2 linked regions of the Homo sapiens genome follow. The protein of the gene in region 1 purifies or fractionates together with the protein of each later gene. This does not show direct contact. Each region holds a gene or a part of one and is shown in the gene's direction. Other genes may lie near its edges. The genes, in order: C10orf90 and GPR150.

The links.
Region 2: the proteins of C10orf90 (region 1) and GPR150 purify together in Homo sapiens (affinity purification with mass spectrometry; one large-scale study listed by BioGRID and IntAct). This does not show direct contact.

What each region holds. Positions count from the first base shown.
Region 1 is NC_000010.11:126,660,445-126,664,258, reverse strand, and holds part of C10orf90 ((E2-independent) E3 ubiquitin-conjugating enzyme FATS), read left to right. Parts: intron 1-3,814. UniProt on the Homo sapiens protein: Tumor suppressor that is required to sustain G2/M checkpoint after DNA damage. Acts as a p53/TP53 activator by inhibiting MDM2 binding to p53/TP53 and stimulating non-proteolytic polyubiquitination of p53/TP53.
Region 2 is NC_000005.10:95,618,808-95,622,889, forward strand, and holds GPR150 (probable G-protein coupled receptor 150), read left to right. Parts: upstream 1-1,279; 5' UTR 1,280-1,468; coding exon 1,469-2,773; 3' UTR 2,774-3,335; downstream 3,336-4,082. UniProt on the Homo sapiens protein: Orphan receptor.

The sequences.
Region 1 (3,814 bases):
ATTGGGGCAAAACACTTCCTTTCCCTGCTTCCCCACACTCAGAGCGTCAGGTCACAGAGACTTATGACCTTCTATATTCTTGGCTCAGGGTAATCTCCATCCCCCAAGCAATTCAGAGATTAGTCATCAAATTGGCCAGGACCTGAATGCACAGTTTTCATTTAGAGCACGCCTACTCCTGGGGCCAGCTGCAAATTCCATCACGGACAAGAGACTCTTGAGAGTGTGAGTTCTTCCACACCTGATTCCCTCACGATAAAGCTAGGGCTAAGGTAGAAAGCATTAATGAGGCATTTTCGACATAAAATGGACCTCCCTAGGGGCAAGGATCTAAATGGGGTTTTACCATCTTATGGAAGATTGCATGGCCCTCACACCTTAGTGTACTTTAGAATCCTTAGAACTTTCTGAGAATTCAGACCCCTGGGTTCTGGGAGGGGTGGCATCCAGAAATCTATGTTTTTAAATAGGGTACTTGGTGGTTTTTTGCAGTTCTGAACCCATGATCTGCAAGTTCTAGACCAATATTTTCCAACCGCATGAACCCCAAAGGAAGTCACAAAAAAGCCAGCTGAATTGTCCATGTTAAGAAAACTGGTGTGTAGAAGGGCAGGGGGTGGGGGCAGATGTGAGTCAGAGAGGACAGTGTGGAAGCCAGGACCACTGCGTGCAAGGAGAGCTGAGAGACGGAGATGGAACAAAAGAGGCGGGTGTCAGCTGATTTCCTGAATTGCCTCATTGAAGCTCACCACAGCTGTGTGAGACACATGAGGCCTATTTTTCCAAAGAGAAAATTCTGTGAGGCCAGAGAGATGGTGCAGGCTGCACAGTGACACAGTTAGGAGCGGCGGAAGGAGGATTCCATCTATGTTACGTCTTCTTCTGCAGATTATACTTCTCACGTGGTGCTGGGTCGGGGGCAGCACATCTCCTGACAACAACAGCTAGAACCCAGGGAGGTTCAGAGCTAACTACAGAGAAAGTCAACTACACCAGGATCAAGTGATTAGGAGCAGTTATCATGCCCCTCTAAATCGGGTGCTCTTTCTCTTTCCTTCTGATTGAGACATTTGTCCCTCCGCAGCTTTCTCACTGATAACTTCCTTACAGTTCTGAGGACCACATGTGTTCTTACCACCCTCTGTTTTTGCCACTCTAGGTCCTCTTCCTCCTCTAGTGGAGCAGACAGATTAAAGAGGAAACACCTGGGCTGGCTCTTGTAACAAATATGTATTAAGGACCTACTGTGTGCCAGGAACTGTGGTAGGTGCCGGGGACACAGAGGACAAAGAGGCTTATCATCTGATCAAGGAGGCACCCATCCCAATGATGCCAGGCCAGGGTGTCTACCCAGATTGTGGATCCAGAGAACTCAGCAAGAATGCACGGAGGCACCCATCCCAATGATGCCAGGCCAGGGTGTCTACACAGATTGTGGATCCAGAGAACTCAGCAAGAATGCACGGAGGCACCCATCCCAATGATGCCAGGCCAGGGTGTCTACACAGATTGTGGATCCAGAGAACTCAGCAAGAATGCATGGAGGAGACCTCTGGGCACATTCTTTATGGAAGAGTGGGAGGTTTCCAGGCGTGGGGGGACAGAGAGAGTATAGGCAAATAGGGAAGGGGAGGACATTTTAGGCAGAAGGAATGGCAATTTCTGAACGGGGGCACAGGAAGGGAAAACCTAAACAGAACCCAGTAGTCTCTCTGAGCTGAGAAGACACAGGATGTGACTGTTATTTGCAAGGCACACTTCTTGAGAGGAAAAAAAACAGCTCCAGAAGTTTGCTTCAGGCCCTCTTAAGTCTGGCTGAAAATTAATCTGTGCTGTGTAGGGAGAAAGTCTCTATGACCAGACAGAGAAAACTGGCAAGGAAAGAACATCTTACTGGGGAGCTGTGAGATGAGCCTTTCTCAGCACTACCTCAGAGCCATGAATCATTCGGGTCCTTTACCACCTGGAATGTAGAGACCTCACTGAATACAGGGAAAATCACGTAGAGCCCCGAGGAGGGTCATGTCTTAGTAGTGCGGCTAAACTAGCCTCAGTAAAGGCTACCCTAGATCCACCCATAATAATTTTAAAACCAGTTGTTGAAATAATCAAGCCATTCCTCAAGTGGTTTAGCTGGCAAACAAAGTTCAACTTTTTTTTTTTTTAACAAGACTACAACAAAATCCAGCAAGCAATAATATAAAATTTACAATGTCTGTCATCCAATCAAAATTACTAAACATTCAAAGAATCCAGAGCATATGACTCATAACCAAGATAATACTGGTTAGTAAAAACAGATTCATTAATGATGCAAATGAGAGAATTAGCAAGCAATGATCTATTAAAAGGCTATTACAAATATTATAATTATATTGTTTGCCCTTTAAATTCAAGGATTTAAGAAAAGACATCACCATAATGGGGCAAGAAATAGATGATTTTTAAAAAAGAACTTCTTGATAAGAAAAAAATGACACTATCTAAAATGGAAATTTTACTGGGTGGGATTAACAGCAGATTGGATGCTGCAGAAGAAAAGATCAATGAACTTTCCAAAATGAAGACAAGAGAGAAAAAAAAAAAAAGAGAGAGAGAGCAAGAGTGAGATTCAGAGAGGGAGAGACAGCAAGAGAGAAAGAGCACTGTAAGATCTATCTGACATCATTTTGGTCAATTTCCATCAGGGAATTGGGAACTTGTGGGGAAACCATATCCACATTTCAGCCAAACCAAGGGAGAGAAGAGATGGCAGATGACAGGTGGTGGTGTGATTAAGAGAAAGAGCACTGGGTCGAGACTGTCTGGGTTCTTACTAGCTGAGTGACCTTGGCAATTTTCTTGTTCTCTTTGAGCCTAGTTTTCTCATCTGTATTCATATGAACAATGATAATATCTGCCTTATAGCGTTGCTGGGGGCATTAAAAGAGATAACCTATATAAAGGGTTGAGCCTTGGAATTGGCATGGAGGCTGTACCCCATGAAAATGAGTTGTTGTTGTTGTCCAAGTTTGAACATATGTTTTCCTGCCATCTCCAACTCTATCATAGAGCCATGGCACAAAGACGTGGCCCCTGGGTGCAGGCAAATTGTAACTAGTACTTTATGGATGCTGCTCCTGTGACCTGGAGGATGATATCAAGAAGCCCAACACACATATGATTAGATACACAGAAAGAATGTGGGGGAGGAGTGAGAAGAAAAAAGATTTGAAGAAATAATGGCTAAAAGTTTTCCAAGTTAATGACATTTGTGTCAAGCATACAATAGCAGAAGCCAGATTCTCAAGGTTGTCCCATGCCACGTTAAGTGTTTCCAAAATCATGGTCCACAGGGTTAACAGTAGGGGTTCTCCAGTCCAAGGGAAATGATCACCATGCACAAATTAACTGAAGCAGCTAGCTGCTGTACTTATGACTGAGATGATATCAATTTAAGGCAGGATCATGTATTGTGTCTGTTATGATTGGCTATTAGAAAAAGGAAAAAATCTGGCAGACACAATCTGTATTTGTTTTTTATTGCTGCCTAACAAATTATTACATACATAGCAGCTTAAAACAACACCATTGATTATTTGTAGATCAGAAGTCCTGGTGTAGGTTAGATGGCTTCTCTGATTAGGATGTCTTCAGGTTGAATCAAGGTGTCACCTGAGACTGTGATCTCTGAGGCTTTGGGATCCTCTTCCAAGATCACTGGTTCTTGGCAGAATTCAGTTCCTTGTGGCTACAGGGCTGAAGTCCCCATTTTCTTACTGGCTGTTAGCCAGAGACATTCTCAGCTTTTAGAGGACTGCTTCAGGTCCCTGTC
Region 2 (4,082 bases), on another chromosome or scaffold:
CATCGTATATCCACTAATTCATCAACTCAACACATACCCACTGATAACTACAACCTGTCAGACCAGAGCGAGGCACCACAGAGATGATGATGAAAATAACCAAGGTTTCTGGCCAAAGGACAACAGCTTGGGAAATGGGATTCCTACAGCAGCTGGCAGGACTATCATGGAACCCACCAAATCTTCCTAGGCCATGAATCTTAAAGTTCCAAATGTTTCCTCAGATTGGGAATGTGAACCCTAGACAACACTCATACCTCCCTGGCCCCCAGGCCAGGAAGTACAGGAAATTCTACTTTCACCATGATTAACGTGGAGGGTGCATAAAAAGACAAATGGATGCTTCCAACAGGGAAACTAAAATGTGTTTGTGAGGAGACAAGGCTAAAATGAAAGCAGCAACATTTAATCTAAACCATTTCCTGTGACTTGGATTTCTTTTTTAAAAAAATTGGCCGCCTTATCACTTTCTTAGTCACCTTTTCTCTAGGCTTATTGGAGGCGTAGCCCCTCCTAGCAACTTCCCATCTGCTGGAAAACAGAATCAAGAGAATGAGGAGTGTGATGACGCATCCTTCACTGGATGAAAATATTAGGAGAAAAGCAATAAATGCACTACCATTTGCATAAAACCTATTAATGCCCTCTTCAGACTAATGAAATGAATTTTACATCACCAAGAAAGCAGCTGTGACCCACTGCTCCTAGTATTTGGAACGATCTGCAACACTGCCACTCCTAAAAGCAACATCATTGACTTTAGTACCCTCTAATTAAAATACTTTCATTCTTGGACAGAGAAGACACATCTTGATCAAAATTCAGCTAATAGGTCTCCTCTTTGCTCAAAACGCTGTTAGGTTTCTTGTGTTCCTGTTTTTCTCATGCTCGTGCAGATCCATGGCATTTCAAACCTTTAAAATAAAAACTAATGTCTTTTCTATTTTTTTCCTACTGGCAATCACATTGGGGTGGTGGGGGCGTGTGGTACAATCTCAGTCAAGAGGTCCTCTCTTGTGTGGGTGCTGGCATAACACTGGCCGTATACAATGGCCAAGCAAAGCGACATTCTGTCCTGCTGTGCTTTACACGTAAATAGAGAATGGATGAGGTTCTCAGCGCCCAGGGGTCCGCGGCTTCCGCGAGGGTAGCGTCGGGGGCCGCTGCAGAGATTGGAAGAGTACCCGCCGGGAATGGGAGGGAAGACGCGGGGAAGGTGGAGAATAGGAATCATGTGTGTTCCTCGAGTGTACAACCCACATTTGAGTGACAAATCACGAGGACAATCGACAAAAACAACTAAGCGCAAAGCCGCCCGAATCCATCTCCCTCTCTGTGCGTGTGCCTTTTCAACTAACTTTGGGAACTCGTATAGACCCAGCGTCGCTCCCCGCGCCGCCTCGCCTCCACTTTGGTTTCCCGCGTCCTGCCCGCCCTCTTCGGTGCCTCCTCTTCCTCCGGGACAAGGATGGAGGATCTCTTTAGCCCCTCAATTCTGCCGCCGGCGCCCAACATTTCCGTGCCCATCTTGCTGGGCTGGGGTCTCAACCTGACCTTGGGGCAAGGAGCCCCTGCCTCTGGGCCGCCCAGCCGCCGCGTCCGCCTGGTGTTCCTGGGGGTCATCCTGGTGGTGGCGGTGGCAGGCAACACCACAGTGCTGTGCCGCCTGTGCGGCGGCGGCGGGCCCTGGGCGGGCCCCAAGCGTCGCAAGATGGACTTCCTGCTGGTGCAGCTGGCCCTGGCGGACCTGTACGCGTGCGGGGGCACGGCGCTGTCACAGCTGGCCTGGGAACTGCTGGGCGAGCCCCGCGCGGCCACGGGGGACCTGGCGTGCCGCTTCCTGCAGCTGCTGCAGGCATCCGGGCGGGGCGCCTCGGCCCACCTCGTGGTGCTCATCGCCCTCGAGCGCCGGCGCGCGGTGCGTCTTCCGCACGGCCGGCCGCTGCCCGCGCGTGCCCTCGCCGCCCTGGGCTGGCTGCTGGCACTGCTGCTGGCGCTGCCCCCGGCCTTCGTGGTGCGCGGGGACTCCCCCTCGCCGCTGCCGCCGCCGCCGCCGCCAACGTCCCTGCAGCCAGGCGCGCCCCCGGCCGCCCGCGCCTGGCCGGGGGAGCGTCGCTGCCACGGGATCTTCGCGCCCCTGCCGCGCTGGCACCTGCAGGTCTACGCGTTCTACGAGGCCGTCGCGGGCTTCGTCGCGCCTGTTACGGTCCTGGGCGTCGCTTGCGGCCACCTACTCTCCGTCTGGTGGCGGCACCGGCCGCAGGCCCCCGCGGCTGCAGCGCCCTGGTCGGCGAGCCCAGGTCGAGCCCCTGCGCCCAGCGCGCTGCCCCGCGCCAAGGTGCAGAGCCTGAAGATGAGCCTGCTGCTGGCGCTGCTGTTCGTGGGCTGCGAGCTGCCCTACTTTGCCGCCCGGCTGGCGGCCGCGTGGTCGTCCGGGCCCGCGGGAGACTGGGAGGGAGAGGGCCTGTCGGCGGCGCTGCGCGTGGTGGCGATGGCCAACAGCGCTCTCAATCCCTTCGTCTACCTCTTCTTCCAGGCGGGCGACTGCCGGCTCCGGCGACAGCTGCGGAAGCGGCTGGGCTCTCTGTGCTGCGCGCCGCAGGGAGGCGCGGAGGACGAGGAGGGGCCCCGGGGCCACCAGGCGCTCTACCGCCAACGCTGGCCCCACCCTCATTATCACCATGCTCGGCGGGAACCGCTGGACGAGGGCGGCTTGCGCCCACCCCCTCCGCGCCCCAGACCCCTGCCTTGCTCCTGCGAAAGTGCCTTCTAGGTGCTTGGTGGTCAGAGACGGGTCATCTGTCGCTAAGGCGCAACCTCCAGGGAACTCGAGGCCTGCCAGGGTCTGTCCAGATCACAAGGGGCAGGAGAGTCTGTGAGAGAGTGACACTGAAGTTGTCCCCTTCCTCCACTCTCCTATTCCCTTCTCATGTTTACATTTCCCTATGCTCTTCCAGTTTCTCTTCTTCCCTACAGTTCCTCTCATATCTCCCCATTTGGAGACAGTGAGCCACTGGAAAGTTGTAAAAACAAAAACAGTTATTTTTGCAGTTTTCTTTCACGCATTTATAGTGCTCTGGATAATGCCATTTATTTTTGCTGATTACCCAACTTTCAGTATTTGCTGTGTTATCATCTGTATTTACTTATTTTGAATCGTGCTTAAATCAAATGTACCTTCAGCACCTGCAAGTTTGCCTTTTCTTTCCAGGAGGAAAATCCCCACGTTGCTCTCCCTGGGGAGTCTGAGAATTATACCAGTGCTGTCAGAAATGTAATCATGCTGTCATTTCAGAGCCACAGAGTATTTATAAAATAAAAACCTTTCCCACGGAGCAATTGGGACTTTTTTTTTTTTAACATAGTAATGTATTTTCTCAGAAGAAAATCAGCGTGGCCTTTATTTCCAGTCTAGTTTCCACTTCAACAGAAGCTGAGGTTGTAGGAAGGAAACAAAAGCTTGACTTGGTGTCTTTCAAATATACTTGGTTTCTGTTGGAAATCGTCCCTGTGCCCCCAGCAGCCTCTAAAGGTGTAATGCTATGCCCAGATGGAGCCTCTCCGTACAAAGTCCCCAGCAAACCAGAGAAAGGAAGCTTCAAGGTGGTGCATATGGGTGGGGCTCAGTGTCCCAGATGGAGCCTCAAAGAGATTTGCAGCTAGGAAGGAAGTCAAAACCTCAGAATGCTGCATGTGTATATAAAACTCCCTTGTTAAAAAAATGAATTCAATGCCTGTTGGTGTGGATAGCTGAGAACAAGGTCAAGAGCGGATTTGATCAGTAACCTCTTCCTCTCAACTGTTCTTGGTTCTAGACAGAAGTGGCAGCACTTATGAACAATATATCCATGGGTTTATCAGTGATTTTTGTATGAGGATCTAAAGCTTTCCATTATAGTGTTTCTTGTTCATGCACAAATGCAGACCTAAGATGCAGAAAGGGGAAATGATTGTTTAAAGCTCTTTGTAGAGCCAATGCTGAGGGCTGTTTTGTTCACTAATATATTCCAAATGCTTAAACAATGCTTGACATGTAGTAGGCTCTCAATATATATTTGTTGAACAATTCATCATGTGAGTTA